2 linked regions of the Homo sapiens genome follow. The protein of the gene in region 1 purifies or fractionates together with the protein of each later gene. This does not show direct contact. Each region holds a gene or a part of one and is shown on either strand. Other genes may lie near its edges.

Region 1 (3,815 bases):
CAGCAGTTTCACTCTGCTTCTTGTGTTTTGGCAAACTTTGGCTCCCATTTTCAGTGAGCACCATCATGTTTTTGATATCTCAGCAACCAAATGAAAAAAGAATGCTCAAAGGCAGTGGGGGAGAAGAATATCTTAGCGCAGAAAAGGGCAAACTTCCTTTCTATTCCTGAAGCCGCACAGTGTGTCATCCTCTAAATCTGACTGTTTAATGTAAAATCTAGGTGGTAAAGACAGAAGACACATTTTGCATCTTTGTCTTTTTATTTGCGTGTTCCCATGAGTCAAATGGGGTAAATACATACATAAGATTCTGAAGAGTGATTGAGAATAAAAGCACAAAATGAAGGAGGGCCCTTTTTGAATTTTGGAAAATTCTGTTTCATTCATTGAAACAGAAATGAAGCAAACTTTACAAAAATTTCTGTGATATATTAATGAGATGATAATTACATCTTAAAGTTATATGGTAATATTTCTATATATATGATCAAATTTAAGTGTGAAATATTTTTAATGACTAAAATAATGACAAACTGAGTCAATTGATAGAATCAATTAAAAAGGTTCTTTTTATTCAATAAAGTGATAACTATCCTTAATATCCCACTCAAGGTTGAAGAAGAAATGAAGAAGCATGAAAGTAATAATGTGGGATTACTAGAAAACCTGAGTAATGGTGTCACTGCTGGCAATGGTGATGATGGATTAATTCCTCAAAGGAAGAGCAGAACACCTGAAAATCAGCAATTTCCTGACAACGAAAGTGAAGAGTATCACAGGTAAGCCTATGGCAACATTGAACAGGAGATAACTATGTGCTGTCAAACTAACCCTAGTTTGGGCTAATATTCATGATGAACAAATTTTATAGTTTTACTAGGATATTCAGCCTTGCCCATTAATCAGAAAAATGAAAATCAGCGAACAATGAGTTACCATTTTTCCAGTCATTAATTTATTTGAAAAATAACCAGTATTGGCAAATGTGAGGGAAAAGGCATTTTCTTTTCTTTTTAGTGAACTTTTCTTTTAGTTTCAGGGGTACATGTGCAGGGTTATTATATAGGTAAAGTGTATCATGGAGATTTGGACGGCAGATTATTTCATCAGCCACATAATAAGCAAAACACCAAAAGTTAGTTTTTTGGTCATCTCCCTCCCGCGACGCTCCACCTTCAAGTAGACCCTGGTGCCTGTTATTCTCCTCTTTGTGTCCATGAGTTCTCATTATTTAGTTCCCACTAATGAGTAAGAATATGTGGCATTTGATTTTCTGTTCCTGCATTAGTTTGCTTAGGATAATGGCCTCCAGCTCCATCTGTGTTGCTGCAAAAGAAATGGTTTCATTGTAAAAGACATTTCATACACTGCTGGTAAATACATTTTGAACATTAATTTAGTAGCATATTCACAAACACATGTATAACAATAAGGATATATAATATATGTAAAGGATATTTGTGTAGATTTGTTACATATATACTTATGTATAAGGACATTTATTACAGCATTATTATATCAAAAAGATGGATCCTTATCAATAGGAAATTATCATTATCAAAAGTAAATCATTACCAATAGGAAATAGCTCAATTTTCATACCCAGAAATTAATGTAGTATGCAACCATTTTTTACAAGTGAGGTTAGATCTAGAGTATACTGATTATTTCACAATTAAAGTGTATTTAAAGCATCAGTGATGACATCTTAAGAGTTCTTGTTAAAATTCTTGTAATATTTCCTGTGTTGCAAATGGAAGCTACATGCTATATTGACGCTGTACCTTGTTAGCAACAAGATTGCTAGTTATTAAATTTTTATTGTCAGTGCCTGAGTGCTGAAATATTGGACCCTCAATCTGAATATTGCCAAGGGATTGTACATGGGGATCTGTATTTAATATAAACGTTTCAGTATATTGGGTAAAACTTTTATTAAAATATATCAAAGGATCTTTCATCTGCTAAACCAGGAGTTGGCCAGCTTTTTCTGCAAAGAGCCAGTTAGTAAATATTTTAGGCTTTGTGGACTATATAAATTAATTTATTTTTGAGACAGGGTCTCACTCTGTTTCCCAGGCTGGAGTGCAGTTGTGTGATCATGGCTCACTGCAGTCTTGACTTTCTGAGCTCTAGTGATCCTCCCACCTCAGCCTCTCTACTAGTTGGGACCACAGGTGTGCAACATCACACCCAGCTAATTGACACTATGGACTGTAAAGTGAATAAGCATGGCTGTGTTCCAAAATACTTGACTTACAAAAACAGGCAGTGGGCTGGATTTGGCCCAAGGTGCTAATTTGCTGACCCTTGTGCTAAAAGGAAGGTGCTGCAAGTGAAGTGACTCTTATTTGTAAAAGTGCCCTGCGTGTGTGAAATTATCCTTCCTTTGAGAAAAGGATATATTTCAGTATTCACCTCACCATATTTTTCCACAGTGACTTCATATAATTTTAAAAATTTCATTTATAAAATAAGATTATTGTCTGCATTTCTCCCACTTTATTCCTGTTAATAGAACCCAGTATTTTGCTGTGATCAATTACTTTGTATATTTGATGAGTATCAGTTGTCCTAGAATTGGCTGATTTTATCAAGCAAGAAATACTCTCCTTGAAACTTTTAGTATTTCTTGGTCTTTATGCATAAGCATGAATAAAATGATAATCAGCTTATGTGTAATCTAGAAATGTTCAAGGCGACTTTTAGTTCTATAGTTTTAAGAATTTAACACCTCAGTCTGGCATTTTTAATGCCACATGTGTATAATTTTTATAACCTTTAAAATATATTATTGTTATATAAAATTTGAAAACTACACCTGTTATATAAAACTTGAAACTATTTGTCTATTACTTTTCCATGACTGTGGAAGAAAATTACAACATTCTCAGTCATGACTCCTAAGCATGATGTCCTTAAAAGAACTGTCCACACTCACGAACTCAAATTTTCTTTTCATTCACTCTTAATCTCACACCGGCGTCTTCAATTTCAGCAGTCCTCCAACATTGTTTTTCCTCAAGATTATCACAATTTTTTTCTGTAAATTATGCATTTTTTCTTACACCTCATTTTATTTAATCTGTCAGCAATATTTGAGCCAGTGGAGGGCGTCTCCTCCCTAACGGCGTCTTCACTTGGCTTTCAGGACCTCACTCCCTCAAGCTTTTCCTCCTGCATTTCTAGTCCATTCATCATGGTCTGTTTTGCTTGCTCCTCCTCATCTTTCTCCTTTTGGACATTGTTGTTTCCCAGGGCTCAGTCCTCAATCTTCTTTCTCCTGACTTTTTCTTTTTCTTTTTTTGAGACGGAGTTTGACTCTGTCCCCCAGGCTGGAGTTCAGTGGTGTGATCTCAGCTCACTACAACTTCTGCCTCTTGGGTTTAAGTGATTCTCCTGCCTCAGCCTCCTGAGTAGCTGGCATTACAGGTGTGTGCCACCATGCCTGGCTAATTTTTGTATTTTTAGTAGAGACAGCATTTCCCCATGTTGGCCAGCCTGGTCTCAAACTCCTGATCTCAGGTGATCTGTCTGCCTTGGCCTCACAAAGTGTTGGGATTACAGGTGTGAGCCACTGCACCCGGCCCCTCGTGACTTTTTCTATTATGTATATGCTAGTGATTTCCAAATGTATGTCTCCAGCTCAGATCTCTCTCCTTAATTCCAGATTTCTATATCAGCCTGCCTACTTGACGTCTCTATTTGGTTAGTTATTGGGTATCACACACGTGTCAGATCCAAAATTGGGCTACTGATGTCCTTCCTGAAATCTACACCTCATGTAGTCTTTCCTATTTTGGTTAAGGGCAACT
Region 2 (3,815 bases), on another chromosome or scaffold:
CTGCCCATCTGCAGGTAACCTCATTTTAACTCCTTTACTAAGGGCTACCCCAAAAGGGAATGTATGGAGCTTAAGGGTGACAATAGGATGGGCTCTGCACCCCTCCGTTAGAATACGAGCTCCGTGTCGGTTTTATTCGCTATTGTATCCTCAGTACCAAGGGCCTGGCATGGCATGGGGTCTTGTGCCCCTGGGAGAAGTCACAGGGCCGGAAGAGCAGTGGACTCACCCTGTCTCTCTTTCAGCCGTTCTGGGGATGTGATAGAATACCTGCTGAAGAACCAGTGGTTTGTCCGCTGCCAGGAAATGGGGGCCCGAGCTGCCAAGGTGAGGCTGCAGTGTAGGAAGGACTGGGGCCAGGGGTTGGGGGAGCTCCCTGAGAATTGGAATGAAGAAATGGGAAGCAGGAGACCTCCTGCCCTGAAGACCTCTCCAGCTGTGGTAACTGAGAGGATGTGTGGGATGGAGGCTGGGCGGCCCAGCAAGGGCTGGCTCATATCCTTACTCAAGCCCAGAATCTTGGCAAGAGGCTTGGGAGGTCCTTTCTGAGTTTTAAAATGACCTCAGAGGCCACTCGTCCTATCTGTGGAGGTGCGGCCGTGCAGGAAGGGCAACATTGTCTAAAGTCCCCTTTCTCTCCAGGCTGTGGAGTCGGGGGCCCTGGAGCTCAGTCCCTCCTTCCACCAGAAGAACTGGCAGCACTGGTTTTCCCATATTGGGTAAGGGTAGGGTAAGGGGAGCTCTTGTGGAGATGGGGAGGGGGGACTGACTGGTTATTCTAAGACTTCACGAATGTCCTCCCGGCAGGGACTGGTGTGTCTCCCGGCAGCTGTGGTGGGGCCATCAGATTCCAGCCTACCTGGTTGTAGAGGACCATGCGCAGGTGGGTAGGAAGAAGCACCCGGAGGGCCGAGTGTGGCACAGAGCACCTAGCCCAGGAGTCAGAGCTCCGCAGGGCCAAGTCCCGCTCCTGCCTGGTCATGTGCTTCATGCTCATAGTCATGTAACCTTCTGCGCGATCAAGGCTCCCTGAAGTGGCATTTCTTTATCTCACCCCTGGGGGAACCTGGCCACTCTAAGACCACATGAGGACGTGAAAACCAAGTGACATTTACACCTGTCAGCTGTTCTTCCTCACTCTCCCCAACCCCTTCCTACTTTTGCAGGGAGAAGAGGACTGTTGGGTGGTTGGGCGGTCAGAGGCTGAGGCCAGAGAGGTAGCAGCGGAACTGACAGGGAGGCCAGGGGCAGAGCTGACCCTGGAGAGGGGTGAGTGCCTGAGCTGGGGAGGGATGTACAGGGGAGCGGGGGCCTGGGCATCTGGGCCTTTGAGGGGAACAGATCCCAAGATACAGAAGGTAGGGTCAGGAAAGTTGGGAATGGAGCCAAAGGGGACAGCCCTGGTCTCTGGGGGTGGGGGTTGGCCTAGAATGGTGGCAGCAGTGGTCTGAGGTCCTAGAAGCCAAGGTTCCAACTGTCCCCATTCTTTTTCTGTTTCCCAGATCCTGATGTCCTAGACACATGGTTTTCTTCTGCCCTGTTCCCCTTTTCTGCCCTGGGCTGGCCCCAAGAGGTGAGGTGGGTTGAGAGGGCGAAAGTGAAGGGGAAACGATAAGGAAGGGATGGCTGGGCCCCCACAGAGGCTTGAGGGGGGCCTGGGGCCTGGGCCTCTTACTGCTCCTCTTCCCCCTAGACCCCAGACCTTGCTCGTTTCTACCCCCTGTCACTTTTGGAAACGGGCAGCGACCTTCTGCTGTTCTGGGTGGGCCGCATGGTCATGTTGGGGACCCAGCTCACAGGGCAGCTGCCCTTCAGCAAGGTAAGAGCCCTTCAGTGCCCTGCCGCTTTCTGTGACTCCAGTGTTCCCCAAACCTTGTCCTCCCTTCTAACCCCTAATGTGGTCCTTTCCACGTTGCTGATTCCTTTTTCCTAATTCACTTCCTACCCTACCCCCAAAAGTATGGAGGCCAGAGATCCCAAGGCACCTCCAAGGAAACCCCCCTCTGTTGACCCCTCCCTGCCCCCAGGTGCTTCTTCATCCCATGGTTCGGGACAGGCAGGGCCGGAAGATGAGCAAGTCCCTGGGGAATGTGCTGGACCCAAGAGACATCATCAGTGGGGTGGAGATGCAGGTGAGGACGAAGCACCCACTAGAGGGACAAGGTTTGCAGGGTTTGCAGGAGAGAGGAAGGCAGGCTGAGGGAGGAGTGAGGCCAGCAGGTGTGACCCTTATAGAGGCAGGGCCTTCGACCTGGGTCGTGAATTGCCCCCTTCCATCCCCAGGTGCTGCAGGAAAAGCTGAGAAGCGGAAATTTGGACCCTGCAGAGCTGGCCATTGTGGCTGCAGCACAGGTGAGTCATCGCTGCCTGCCCCCCACCAGCTCTAGCTCACCACCTCTGGCTTCCTCTGCAACCCAGGTCCTGGCCCTGCAGCCACAAAGGCATCTGCCACCCTTCTTCTTCCTCTGGTTGCAGAAAAAGGACTTTCCTCACGGGATCCCTGAGTGTGGGACAGATGCCCTGAGATTCACACTCTGCTCCCATGGAGTTCAGGGTAAGCCTGGGCGAGGGGTGTCGGGGTGAGCAGAGGGCAGCGGGCACCTGTGCAGGGGCAGGGCAGGGGCAGGACTTCTGGTGCTGCTGCCACCTACATGCAGACTACCTCGATTCTTCCCTTCCAGCGGGCGACTTGCACCTGTCAGTCTCTGAGGTCCAGAGCTGCCGACATTTCTGCAACAAGATCTGGAATGCTCTTCGCTTTATCCTCAATGCTTTAGGGGAGAAATTTGTGCCACAGCCTGCTGAGGAGGTAAGAGAAAACAGAGGTGCTTGGGAGTAGGGTAGTCAGGTGTCAGAGGGCCAAGGTGGCATCTGGAAGGAAAGGAGGCAGGGGAGGGGGAGTCAGGCCATCCTGCCCCCTCTGCCTGCAGCTGTCTCCCTCCTCCCCGATGGATGCCTGGATCCTGAGCCGCCTTGCCCTGGCTGCCCAGGAGTGTGAGCGGGGCTTCCTCACCCGAGAGCTCTCGCTCGTCACTCATGCCCTGCACCACTTCTGGCTTCACAACCTCTGTGACGTCTACCTGGTGAGTGAGGCTGGGGGAGGCTTGGTATTCCCATGCCTGCTTCTAATTCCTCTGGAAATTTCCAAGGCAGAGAGCTCTGGAGTTAATAAGTTCCCAATTGTCCCCTCAGTTAGGAGAGGAGAGGAGACGAGGGAGTCTCAGTTCCCCTCTTCCTGGGACTGGTTTTGGCAGTGCAGCCCAGGCACTGTTGCCTGCCTGTCACCTGGGGAGAGGAGGAGGAGGGAGACTTCTAGAAATGTCTGACAAGTCGGTGTCAGAAGGCAGAGGGGAATTTTTTCAGTCCCTGTAGTTGCTGAGTTTGGCCCATGGGCAGGCTGCGTGCTGAGAGAGGCCTGGGAGGGACTAGCAGCGGTCTTTAGACCAGGGGTTCTCACGCTGTCCTACGTCCAAAGCACCTGGAGGGCTTGTTGACGGTGGATCCCCCCCGCTCCACTGCCACCCCAGAGTGGCTCCTTTAGCAGGTTGGGGTGGGGGTGGGTGGTGTAATGAATATTCATTTCTTGTCCCAAGTGGTGCTGCTGCTGCTGGCTGTGGACCACTGCCCTAGCTCAGCCTTTTAAAAACCTCTGTCCCCTGTTGATAAGCAAAAAACTCAATGATTTTTTTCCCTAAACTACATGTTTCCCTGGAAATCCTGTCCCTGTGTACTGCAGAGAATTGCTGTCCTGGAGTCCCCTTCTTTGTGCTGAGTGTGTCCTGGGACTGTGGATCATATCAGAAGTGCTAAGTGCT

Evidence for each region.
Region 2: the proteins of POTEJ (region 1) and VARS2 fractionate together in Homo sapiens (co-fractionation; one large-scale study listed by BioGRID). This does not show direct contact.

What each region holds. Positions count from the first base shown.
Region 1 is NC_000002.12:130,631,878-130,635,692, forward strand, and holds part of POTEJ (POTE ankyrin domain family member J), read left to right. Parts: intron 1-612; coding exon 613-779; intron 780-3,815.
Region 2 is NC_000006.12:30,920,423-30,924,237, forward strand, and holds part of VARS2 (valine--tRNA ligase, mitochondrial isoform 2 precursor), read left to right. Parts: coding exon 1-14; intron 15-245; coding exon 246-327; intron 328-642; coding exon 643-719; intron 720-807; coding exon 808-883; intron 884-1,166; coding exon 1,167-1,269; intron 1,270-1,502; coding exon 1,503-1,573; intron 1,574-1,693; coding exon 1,694-1,819; intron 1,820-2,027; coding exon 2,028-2,132; intron 2,133-2,283; coding exon 2,284-2,352; intron 2,353-2,475; coding exon 2,476-2,554; intron 2,555-2,681; coding exon 2,682-2,809; intron 2,810-2,930; coding exon 2,931-3,083; intron 3,084-3,815. UniProt on the Homo sapiens protein: Catalyzes the attachment of valine to tRNA(Val) in a two-step reaction: valine is first activated by ATP to form Val-AMP and then transferred to the acceptor end of tRNA(Val).